Linked DNA regions of Homo sapiens. The protein of the gene in region 3 interacts with the protein of the main gene of each other region in a pairwise test. Each region holds a gene or a part of one and is shown on either strand. Other genes may lie near its edges.

What was found.
Region 1: the proteins of ZNF385C (region 3) and RBM47 interact in a two-hybrid assay, tested with the Homo sapiens proteins (one large-scale study listed by BioGRID).
Region 2: the proteins of ZNF385C (region 3) and SRSF11 interact in a two-hybrid assay, tested with the Homo sapiens proteins (one large-scale study listed by BioGRID).

Annotation. Positions count from the first base shown.
Region 1 is NC_000004.12:40,623,279-40,626,929, forward strand, and holds part of RBM47 (RNA-binding protein 47), read right to left. Parts: intron 1-3,651. UniProt on the Homo sapiens protein: Single-stranded RNA-binding protein that functions in a variety of RNA processes, including alternative splicing, RNA stabilization, and RNA editing. Functions as an enzyme-substrate adapter for the cytidine deaminase APOBEC1.
Region 2 is NC_000001.11:70,231,251-70,234,901, reverse strand, and holds part of SRSF11 (serine/arginine-rich splicing factor 11), read right to left. Parts: exon of another isoform or gene 2,792-3,651; coding exon of another isoform or gene 2,635-2,791; coding exon 2,525-2,634; intron 207-2,524; coding exon 114-206; intron 1-113. UniProt on the Homo sapiens protein: May function in pre-mRNA splicing.
Region 3 is NC_000017.11:42,091,969-42,095,619, forward strand, and holds part of ZNF385C (zinc finger protein 385C), read right to left. Parts: intron 1-3,651.

The DNA.
Region 1 (3,651 bases), on a different chromosome or scaffold from region 3:
TGCACCAAATGGGAAGGGCTAACTTGTTATTGGATTTCTCTTTGCTCTGCAAATAGGATTTCACTAGAGGCAATTCTTCTAATACTTCTTCAGCCACCTGTCCTTCCTCATCTCTTTTCTTAGTAACTAAGAGTACACTGTCAGCCCACCAGAAAAGCCACACTGCTGTGATTCATTGATATTCACCTGATACTGCCCTTTCACTCTTGGATTTCTTGGTTGACCCTCCGTATTTTTTAGAGGTGAGATCTCACTATGTTACCCAGGCTGGAGTGCAGTGGCTAGTCACAGGCGCAATCATAACGTACTAAAGCCTTGAGCGCCTGTCATCCAGCGACGCTCCTGCCTCAGCCTCCCAAGTAGCTGGGACCACAGGCATGAACCACCACGCTCAGCTCTTCACTCTCCCTAATTTTGAGAAAACATACTTTTTTCCTTCTAGTAATGACCTAATAAGTTTTTTCTAATTACGAAAAAATGCACTTTTTTCCTCCTCATCATTGCTTATTGGCAACTCTCAGCCTTTTAAAGGATATTAAATAGCAGACAAAGAGGTATAAACTTGTTTGTTTGTTTGTTTGTTTGTTTGTTTTTTAGATGGAGTCTTGCCCTGTCAAGGCTGGAGTGCAGTGACGCAATCTCGGCTCACTGCTACCTCCGCCTCCCGATCTCAAGGGATCCTCCCACCTCAGCCTCCCTGGTAGCTGGGATTACAGGCGTGTACCACCACGCCTGGCTAATTTTTGTATTTTTTGTAGAGATGGGGTTTTGCCATGTTGCCTAGATTGTTCTCAAACTCCTGGGCTCAAGTGATCTGCATGCCTTGGTCTCCAAAAGTGCTGGGATTACGGTGTGAGTGACCAAGCCTGGCCCAGATTAATTTATTTAATCCTTATAATAACCCTGTGAGGTAGGCATTTTACAGTTGGGGAAACTGAGTCACAGAGTTTTCTTTTTTAGTTAGCCTGCCTAAAGTCACATGTAAGTGGCAGAACTAAGATTGGAACCAAGGCAGCCCATGCTCCTAGCCACTCTGCTATGGAGTGTGAATTTAGTATGAATAGCCATCCTTTCCCTAAAATCTGCATCTTTACTCTAGATAAACCCCTTTTTTTCTCACCACATGACCAAACGTTGCTGATTACCCTGATAACAAACTAGCCCACAGTGCTGAGCTCTCCTCCATGCCAGCATGCTGCAGCCTTTTATAATCTAACTAAATTCTAAGGTAAAGCCATAACCACCTCATTCTTCCCTGGACATGTCTAAAATAGTAAGATCATCCTCATGGAGAAATAGATCATAGGTATTAACTGGTAGTACATAAAACAAAAACAACAAAAACATTAGGCCATTGCATTTTCTGTTAATAAGAAGTTGCAGTGCCCCATTAAATTTTCTGTGTCACCAAAGCCTCCCAGTTGTAGTTACACAAAGGCAACTTTGTCTTGAGAAGGCTACTGGGAAGATGGGCCTAATCTTGGCAAGGGCTTGGTGTACCAAGAACCATGTTATTATTTTTTAATCAAATGACAACACACAAAAAGAAATATTATTTAAGCCATCTTTTCTTTTCTTTTTCTTTTTTTTTTTTTTTTTTTTTGTTGTTGTTGCCCAGGCTGGAGTGCAGTGGCGCGATCAGCTCACTGCAACCTCTGCCTCCTGGGTTCAAGCGATTCTCCTGCCTCAGCCTCCCGAGTAGCTGGGACTACAGGCACCCGCCACTATGCCTGGCTAATTTTTGTACTTTTAGTAGAGACAGGGTTTCACCCTATTGGCCAGGCTGATCTCGAACTCCTGACCTTGTGATCTACCCGCCTTGGCCTCCCAAAGTGCTGGGATTACAGACATGAGCCACCGTGCCCAGCCTAAGCCATCTTTTTAAAAGTCACAGTGCTATTATCATCACCAACTTGGAACCCTCGTTTTTGAAACACAAATGGTTTACCTGAGCTTACAAGGCTCAAATACACATTTTCAGAATAGGAATTAAATTGATCTAAGAGAAACAACACCTGAAAAAACCCTGTCCATTTTGTACTTCTGTACTTTTTGTTTTTCTTGGGGCACGTGAAATGCTTTACAAACATGATTGAGCCAGGTCTCAGTGCTCTGAAAGGTAGATACTTTTTATTATAATATTAATATGCTGACATTTCCTTGGTCAGGTACAGGCGTCCTGTTCCTGTTTCAGCTGCACAATGCCCTGCATTCATTGTACACTCACCCACTGCCCATTGGTACATATACTTAACTCTTGCTCACCCACATGTGGATTATCCATAGCGTCTGGGAACGGGTTGTCTTCCACCCCAGCTGGTGGATACTCAGGGAATATGAGCAAAACTGACAATTCATTGAAGCAAGGCACAATCAGGAGGCTCATTCAGCGTACACCCACCAGGAACCCACTGTGGTCTTCGTGCAGGGCCACCATGTTCATGAGAACCACAAATATATAGCATCCCCAAAGACAAATATCGTGATTTGGGGAGACTGGATGTTGTTTTCTTGATTAATGTGGCTGAGTGTAATCTATAAATAAAGCATACATTTTGCAGAACCAGAAATCTCCTGAGACCAAAAGATTGATATTTTCCTAAAACACAAAGGGTTTTCAGGGTTACACTAGCACTCTGTCTTCTCCCGATGTCATCTCCCTGAAATGGCCTTCAGAAAAGCAGAGATTGTGCTTTTGATTTCTAAAATGACTCCACTCTAAAAGCTTTGATAGGGTGCACCAAAAGAGCTACTATAGTCACAATCACTTTTACGTGATCAGCTTATTTATGTATTTTACTTTACAAACACATAAACCATATGCATCTAGACACACCCACAAATCGTTGTTTACATAAACTAAGTTCCTATGATGACAAAAATGGAAGATTCATAACAACCAAAAAAGATGCTCCTGTTAAATATGCAAGTTACATAAACTGAGCTGTAATTGTTTTGTTTTGTTTTTTCAGGTGTACTTAAACCACACAGAAAGTAGAGGAAAGGCAGACAGTGGGAGTATGGTTGAAGGGTTTGTGCCTTTTGTAATCAGTTTACTTTTGGTTTTACCAAGAGATGATATCTTGAATTCATTCAAACTAGTGTCTATTGCAGTACACTAGGAACATTTGAATTACAAAAGGAGAGGAGGAGCCTCCACTTCCCACAGTTGCTAGTTTACCTGCAATCCTTTGAGGGCAGTGGTAATCTCCATGTGAGCTTTCTGGTAAATTCCACACTAGGACCACATTCAGAACTTACCTGTTTCTTGGCCGTTTATTCCTCTAGACACTCTCTCCCTTTCTACTTTCGCTGGAAAATGAAAGTTTTCCTCCCCCACACCTTTTTCAGAGCAAAAGATACGAGAACCTTAAAAGCAGGTGGTCATTGACTTCAAGGGGACGAGATCGCCCTCCCCACTGCCTCTCCCCATACAGACGCTCACAGAATAGACGGGGAAGCAACTATGAGAGAAACAGAAGCAATCAGAACTCCAGCTCAGACGACCTCAGGAGTTTTACCAACAGGATGATTCAGGACCACACACAAAAAATGGCAGGGTGCCATTTCCCCCGAATCTCTCCCGCATAAGATGGAAACAACAACTTGAGGTGGCAACTGAGCAATTAGTTACTGATCATTTCTATGACA
Region 2 (3,651 bases), on a different chromosome or scaffold from region 3:
AAAAAATTACTACAACATAGCCATTAGCTTCTGCTCTTGAAATGCAAACCAACAGTTAATGAAACAGATCTTCTGTAAAAATGGGTGAAAAATTTGAAGTTACTAAGGTATACCTGAGAGTTCAAGTTTGCTCCAGGAAGCCCAAGTGCAGCAAGGGCAGGATCAAGAGTAGGAGCCCCCAAAGCAGCCAGTGGAACAGCGCCAATCTGTGAAATGGCAAATTTTATTTATTTAAAACTTCATTTCAGTTCCTTATACCAGGGGTTAATACTTTTTTAATGTAAAGGGTCAGATAACAACTTGAGTTTTCAGGCTACATGGTCTCCGTACAACTCCTCAGTTGTACACAAACCATATAACTACTGCCATCATAGCTTGAAAGCAGCCAGAGACGATACCTAAACAAATGGCTGTGGTCCAATAACAATCTATTAACAGAAATAGGAGTCTTGCTCTATATGACACCCATGTTCCACCCATTACAACACATTTCCCCCCTAAATCCTAGATTAAGAAAAAAAGACAAAATATTTCAACATATTCTTGTGCTGATTTTAATTATTTATTGCTTCTCAGGATCCAAATCTACTATTCTTTGCCCTGCTGTTTTGTGCTACCGGAGGCAGGACCTTTACAAAGCATTTCTCCTTTGACAGTTGCCATGATATAAGACTTCATTTGGAAAGAGTGCTGGAAGGACACTGACTAAGAAAGGGGCTCTTCCTGGTTGCTGTGTCCCCTTTCTGATTATTCCTGCAGCACCATGTCAAACACCCAGTAGCCCTCGCCTCTCAGTAAGTTTTAATACCAACTCCTTATGCAGCTCCCCAGGGCACCCAAGAGAACTTATTTACTAGTCACCCTTCCAAAAACAAATCTAAGTTTCAGCATAGATGGGGAAAGAGGAGTCCCCTGAACTAAATGGGTGTTCCTTCTGCTTCAGCCTCAGAGGTAGTGGTTGTTTCTTATACTTGTGATTCCTGTATTCATTAGAGTTCCCCTAGTAATCTCCTATAACTAGTTAGTAATTCCTTAAATGTTCCCTGTTCAAATCACTGCAGGGTTCTGCCACCTGCTTGACACCAATTCTGATTAATCCATAATGTAATAGACACAAACCATGAAAGTGAGGCTACTTTAAAACCATCTGTAGCTTTTGAAACAGCCTCACTTTCTCCACCTGTGCTACAAGTTCTCCTTGTTTCAATTTATTTAGTAAACACAAACTATCAAACTTTCTATAATTTAACTGTTTATTCGTAACAGGCAAAATGCTGTGTTAATACTATTTTAACTTACTGTCCAACATAGCTATTGCATAGCTTTATACATTAAAGGAATTTAGAAAATTACCCAGATCTGGACTGGGCGCGGTGGCTCACGCCTGTAATCCCAGCACTTTGGGAGGCCAAGGTGGGCAGATCACTTGAGGCCAAGAGTTCAAGACCAGCCTGGCCAACATGGTGAAACCCCATCCCTACTAAAAATACAAAAATTAGTCAGGCATGGTGGCATGCCTGTAGTCCTAGCTATTCGGGAGGCTGGGGCAGAATCGCTTGAACCAGGGAGGTGGAGACTGCGGTGAGCCGAGACTGTGCTATTGCACTCCGGCCTGGGTGACAGGGCGAGACTCTGTCCATCTCAAAAAAACAAAAACAAACAAAACAAAAAACAAACAAAAAAAAACAAAACAAAACAGAACAAAGAATAAAGAAAATTACTCAGATCCTCATTTTATAGGTTAAAAGAAATAACCTAGGAGTTAAGTGATAAAAGTCACACCTAAAAAGCTTAGGAACTCCTAATCTTTCATTCTATAGTGCACTTCACAGTTAAGAGTCAATTAGTCAATTATTTAGACAGGCAAAATGATACACTAGAAAGAATGCTTTTATAAATTTCCAGTTGAGGCTCATTCACTACAATCTTTGAAACTACTGACCAGTTACAATCTCAGTAATTAGAATACACAGTATTTAAAGTGCCTTTTAGTTCTAAAATAAGCTTCGTACAGCACTGTCAGTGTTAGAAACACTATTGCAACCAATTTTCTTTCACATTCCCATATCAAACATCTCCATCAAGAATTGCCTTTGTTTTCAAGCCACCTATGTAATTCAAAACCCCCCAAATAACAGGAAAAGATAAAGGGGAAGGAAAAAAAAATGAAGGGCTCACTTGTGAAATTTTAACTTCAGTTTTCTTTCCTGGTCCAAATGAATATATTTTTAACAGTGTGTTCAGAGAAGTGTTCATGCCTCAGGAGACTGTTCCAAAACTACTCATGGGTTATTTTGAGAGCCAATGGTAAAAGTGACAGAACAGATATTTTATGATTTTTCAGAATGTTCTTAAAATACAAAAGTCTAAGAGATCTTCTATACTATTTGTGATTTTGATATAGACATGTGATAATGCTATCTGAACTAGAATCTTATGAGTACTTACAAAGTTCAAATATGTTTAGCTTTATGCACAATTCTGTTTTTTTCCCCACCCTTTAAGAATTCAATAGAACTAGTACCTGGGTAAGTGGGTTAGGAGTAGGCAGGAGTCCACCACCAGGCAGAAGACCTGCCACTGCATTAGCTGGTGCCAACAGAGACAAAGCTTTAGCTTCATCAGGAATAACTCCTGCAGAGAAACATCCTTGCATTAGAACACATTCTTTTCTAAGACAGAAAACACACAAAAACACCCAGAAAATGTCTCCCTGATACACCACCTGAGTTTGTTGAAAGTACTTATGTTCGCTAAAATACAAAGCTTGATTTCTATGATTATTTATCATTAATTTTATGTCAGAATGAACTTCAATGTGTGAAAATTTGTTTCCTTTTTCTCTACAAATGGTTAAGTTTCTAGAGTAAAAAAAAATAGCACAATACACACTACTTTTTTGTTAACACTGCCAAGATTTCATCACCTGTACTCGATTTTTAAGTCATGAACCAAACGTAAGCAAGCACAGTCGGTTCTCCAGGGGTGTGCTCTCAACTTTCAAAAGCTGTTTTATGAACAACGACTCGTGTCGGCTGCTTCACTATAAAGCACACAGAAAAATCAAGATACACAAGACAAAAAAAGTTTGATTTAGGGGTTAATAATATGGTACAGTTACTATGATTTTCTTTTACACCTACCATACAAATTTTGTAAAAATTAAGAGAAGAAAGTATGTAAAGGAAATATTCTGTTGGAATCAAGCGTAGGGCTTTTGCTGACTCATGAAAATGAATATGAATGTTTCTGAAGGTCTCTGAATACACACAGGATGTGTGCATGGGAGTGAGAGAGAAAGAGAGATAGGTAAAACAACATGGCACATTCCTTACCTGTACAGTAAAATGCTTTATGTTTCGCCATGTGCCATGCTAACCATACCAAAAAATGCTGCCATACAGTGCCAGTTGAAAAGCTAACTTAGCCAAACTCCTTAAGCCAAAAATGACATATATATCTGTTTTTAAAGCCTAATCTGTGTATTCAGATAAAATCTAAGGGTCCTAAAACAAATATTTATGTAGACAATTTAAATTCTATCCAACAGCAAAAGCCCTATACAGATGGATTAATCTGTTAATGTGCCCAAGCCCCCAAAATGAGAGTTCAATAATACAATTAAACTACATATTTGCAAATACCAGTAGT
Region 3 (3,651 bases):
GGAGCAGCTCCAGCATGGTCTGGCAAGGAGCCCTGGCTGTGAGGGGTGAGGAGACCCAGGTTCCAGTCCAGGTTCTGCTAGAAGATTGATTCTGCGAAAGTTCCTTTGCTCTCTGAGCTTTCATCATCTACAAAAAGAACTTTGATCTTAGCCAGGCCCAGAGGTTCATGACGGTAATCTTAGCACTTTGGGAGGCCGAGGTGGGTGGATCACCTGAGCTCAGGAGTTCGAGACCAGCCAGGACAACATGGCAAAACCCTGTCTCTACTAAAAATACAAAAAATTAGCTGGGCATGGTGGCATGTGCCTGTAATCCCAGCTACTCAGGAGGCTGAGGCACGAGAATCTTGTGAACCTGGGAGGGGGAGGTTGCAGTGAGCTGAGACTGCACCACTGCACTCCAGCTTGGGCAACAGAGCAAGCGAGATTCGTGTCAAAAAAAAAAAAGAATTTTGATCTCTGCAGGTGCTCATAGGATGGGATGAGGCAGTTCTGTATACTGCAAAGTTCTGTACAAAATCAGGGGATAGGAGGCCCTTTGGGGTCCTAGGGAGATTGTTCTGGAGATGGATTCTTACAGGGGCCCCGAGCCCATCAGAGAATTATTCCTCTGCTAAAGTCTCACTGGAGGACTGGCTCAAGCCTCTGCCAACAGGGAGAGTGGGCAGGCTTCTCCCACATTCCAAAGACCACACCCCATGTGTCCCTCTTTAGGAACCCCTAGAAAACCCAAGGGTTCCTGTTCCCAGTGCCTTTTCCTGGCATTTCCTCTCCTCTCAGCAGGGAGTGGGGGAGTGTCCCATCCCCATCCTGCCCTCCAGGGCCAGAGCACTCAACTTTGGGGCTGGGGAGGGGGTCAGCTGGCATCAGATGCGGGACTGAACAGAGCTGAGATCAGAAGGGTAGAGAAGTCTGGGGCTTGGGATGTAGGAGAGACATCTGGGAGCGGGGGGCGGGGGTCCGGGGAAGGCTGGACAGGGCAGGGGGCAAGGCCAAAGCTGGGTCTGGCCTCTAGCCTGGGCATCTAAAGTGAGAAGAAGGACCTGTGGAGTCAGTCCTTGCCCCACCCAAGGAAATCTTAATCCAATAAACAAACAGCCAACACAGCCGCTCCTGTGCAAGAAGCCGTGGGAGCGATGGGGAGGCCACAGAGGTGGGGAGGCCAGGAGAGGGCAGGGAGGCTGTTTAAACAGGCCCCTCGGCCTGGGGCAGTTGGCAGAAATATTTGGAACAGGGTGGGGAGCACAGCTGTGGTTTGGAGCAGGAAGCTGGGGCCCGGGGTGGGTGGGCTGAGCTTGACTGCTTCCAGGAGAAAGAAAAGTGTCAATTCAGCCCCACTCTGGTCAACGCCTCTTCTGAGGGAGACTCCAAGTCCCAACACCCTTCCCTCAGTTCAAGGTCAATCAGGTCAACCAGACAGACAAGGGGCTCTATCCCTTATCTCCCAGAGTGATGACTCTGGACCCCCAGCCCTGCTCCCAGGCCTATGACCCTGGGCCTCATCACTGAAGAAAGTTTCAGAGTTCAGAGCCGAAACCCCGGAGTTCTCAACAGAGGAGTTAGAGGAGATGAGCCATCAGCTCTTTATTTTTTTTACTTTTTATTTTATTTTATTTATTTTTTTTTTTTTGAGAGAGGGTCTCACTCTGTCGTCCAGGCTGGAGTGCAGTGGCACGATGTTGGCTCACTGCAACCTGTACCTCCCAGGCTCAGGCAAATCTCCTGCTTCAGTCTCCCGAGTACCTGGGATTAAAGGTACCCATCACCAAGCCCGGCTAATTTTTTGTACTTTTTTAGCAGAGACGAGGTTTCACCATGTTGGCCAGGCTGATCTCTAACTCCTTGACCTCAAGCAATCCACCCACCTTGGCCTCCCAAAGTGCTGGGATTACAGGTGTGAGCCACTGCACTCGGCCCATCCACTCTCCCTAGGACGTGATATTCCCTTTCCTGCCGCCTTGCCTGGCAGTGGAGGAGCCCAGAAGTGATCGTGGCCCCCTGGGAGGCATTATCACCTTTTTTTTTTTTTTTTGAGATGGAGTTTCACATTTGTTGCCCAGGCTGGAGTGCAATGGCGCAATCTTGGCTTTCTGCAACCTCTGCCTCCCAGGTACAAACGATTCTCCCACCTCAATCTCCCAAGTAGCTGAGATTACAGGCATGCGCCACCGCGCCCAGCTAATTTTGTATTTTTAGTAGAGACGGGGGTTCACCATGTTGGCCAGGCTGGTTTCGAACTTCTGACCTCAGGTGATCCACCCGCCTCAGCCTCCCAAAGTGCTAGTATTACAGGCGTGAGCCACCGTGCCTGGCTGTCACCTTCTTTCAGGACTCTTGGCTCTCCTTTTGCCGAGACTCCTCAAGAGACTAAGGCAGAGAGTCAGAGGGATACATGTCCAGACTGACAGGCAGATATAGAGAGAGGTGAAGATACAGAAAGACCCACCCAGAGAGATAGCCACGCAGTCAGACACTGAGAGTGGGAGTGTGAGAGAGAGGGACAGAGAGAGAAGGGGTAGACAGAGGAGGCAGAGAAAAAGGAAGAAGAAAAGACATAGAAAGACTCACAGAAAAAAGAGCTAGACGGGTGGAGAGGAGAGACAGAGATAACAAAGGACAGGGTCAGGAGAGGGGAAAGGACACAGATGGGGAGCACACAGGAGGCGCAGGGCCAGACACACTCACAGGCCGAAGCAGAAAGAGGCTCACGAGAACTACACAAGGACAGACAGCCTCAGGACCCAGAGACACTCTCCTGGGAGACGTGGGGGGAGCCAAAGTGCTTGGGGGTCGAGCCCCACTGGGGGTGGCCTCACCAGGGCAATGCTGCTGCCTCCTGTCCCAAAAGCTTAACCAACCGCTGCCGGCATCTGGCCCCCAGCCACCCTCTAGTAAGCCAGCCCTTGGCCACTGGAGCCAGTGGGTCACCCAAGGTGAATGAAAAGTCACCAATAAGGGACAGTGAGAGTGTGACTGGGGTGAAGGTATGGGTGTCACAAGCCATGTGTGTCAGGGTGGGTCTGACCTGGGGTGGGGTTTAGGAGCGCACAACCCTATACACAGACCTCTGGGGGTTAGTGCAGGCGGGCATGCGTACCTGAGTGAGTTTGTGAGTGTCTGTACACGTGTGTGGATCCAGTTCCATTAAGAGCCTCACGATGCTAATGAGGCCAACGTGGCAGGCTGTTCCTCAAATAGCCCAATCAGAAACAATGAGTGAGCAGAGACAGCCACAATAAAGGTTTCATGCCTCTTCTGAACAGACGGTGTGTCCAGGTGCCACAGGGCACTTGACTACAGTCAACACCAGCGTACCATTCATTCCCGCTGGGGATGACCCCCGCCGCCTGGCCAGCTGACCCCACAGTCTCCCCTGTCCCAAGCCCAAACTCCAAACTCATGGGAGAACCCACATGATAGACACATGGGCCCTCCCGGGTGGCAGGCGCAGCTCCCTCTGAGAAGGGCAGCCAGAGGGATGGTGGGGTCCAACCCTGGCTTTCCCCCAGGCTAGCTTCCATCCCTCCTGCTGCTGCGGCCCCATTTAGCTCTCTCCTTGCTCCTGGGGTCCAGTGACCCACACCCTCACCACACACAGGAGAGAAGTAACCTCTCCTCCCCAGCCCTTCCCTCTCAAGCATCACAGGACAT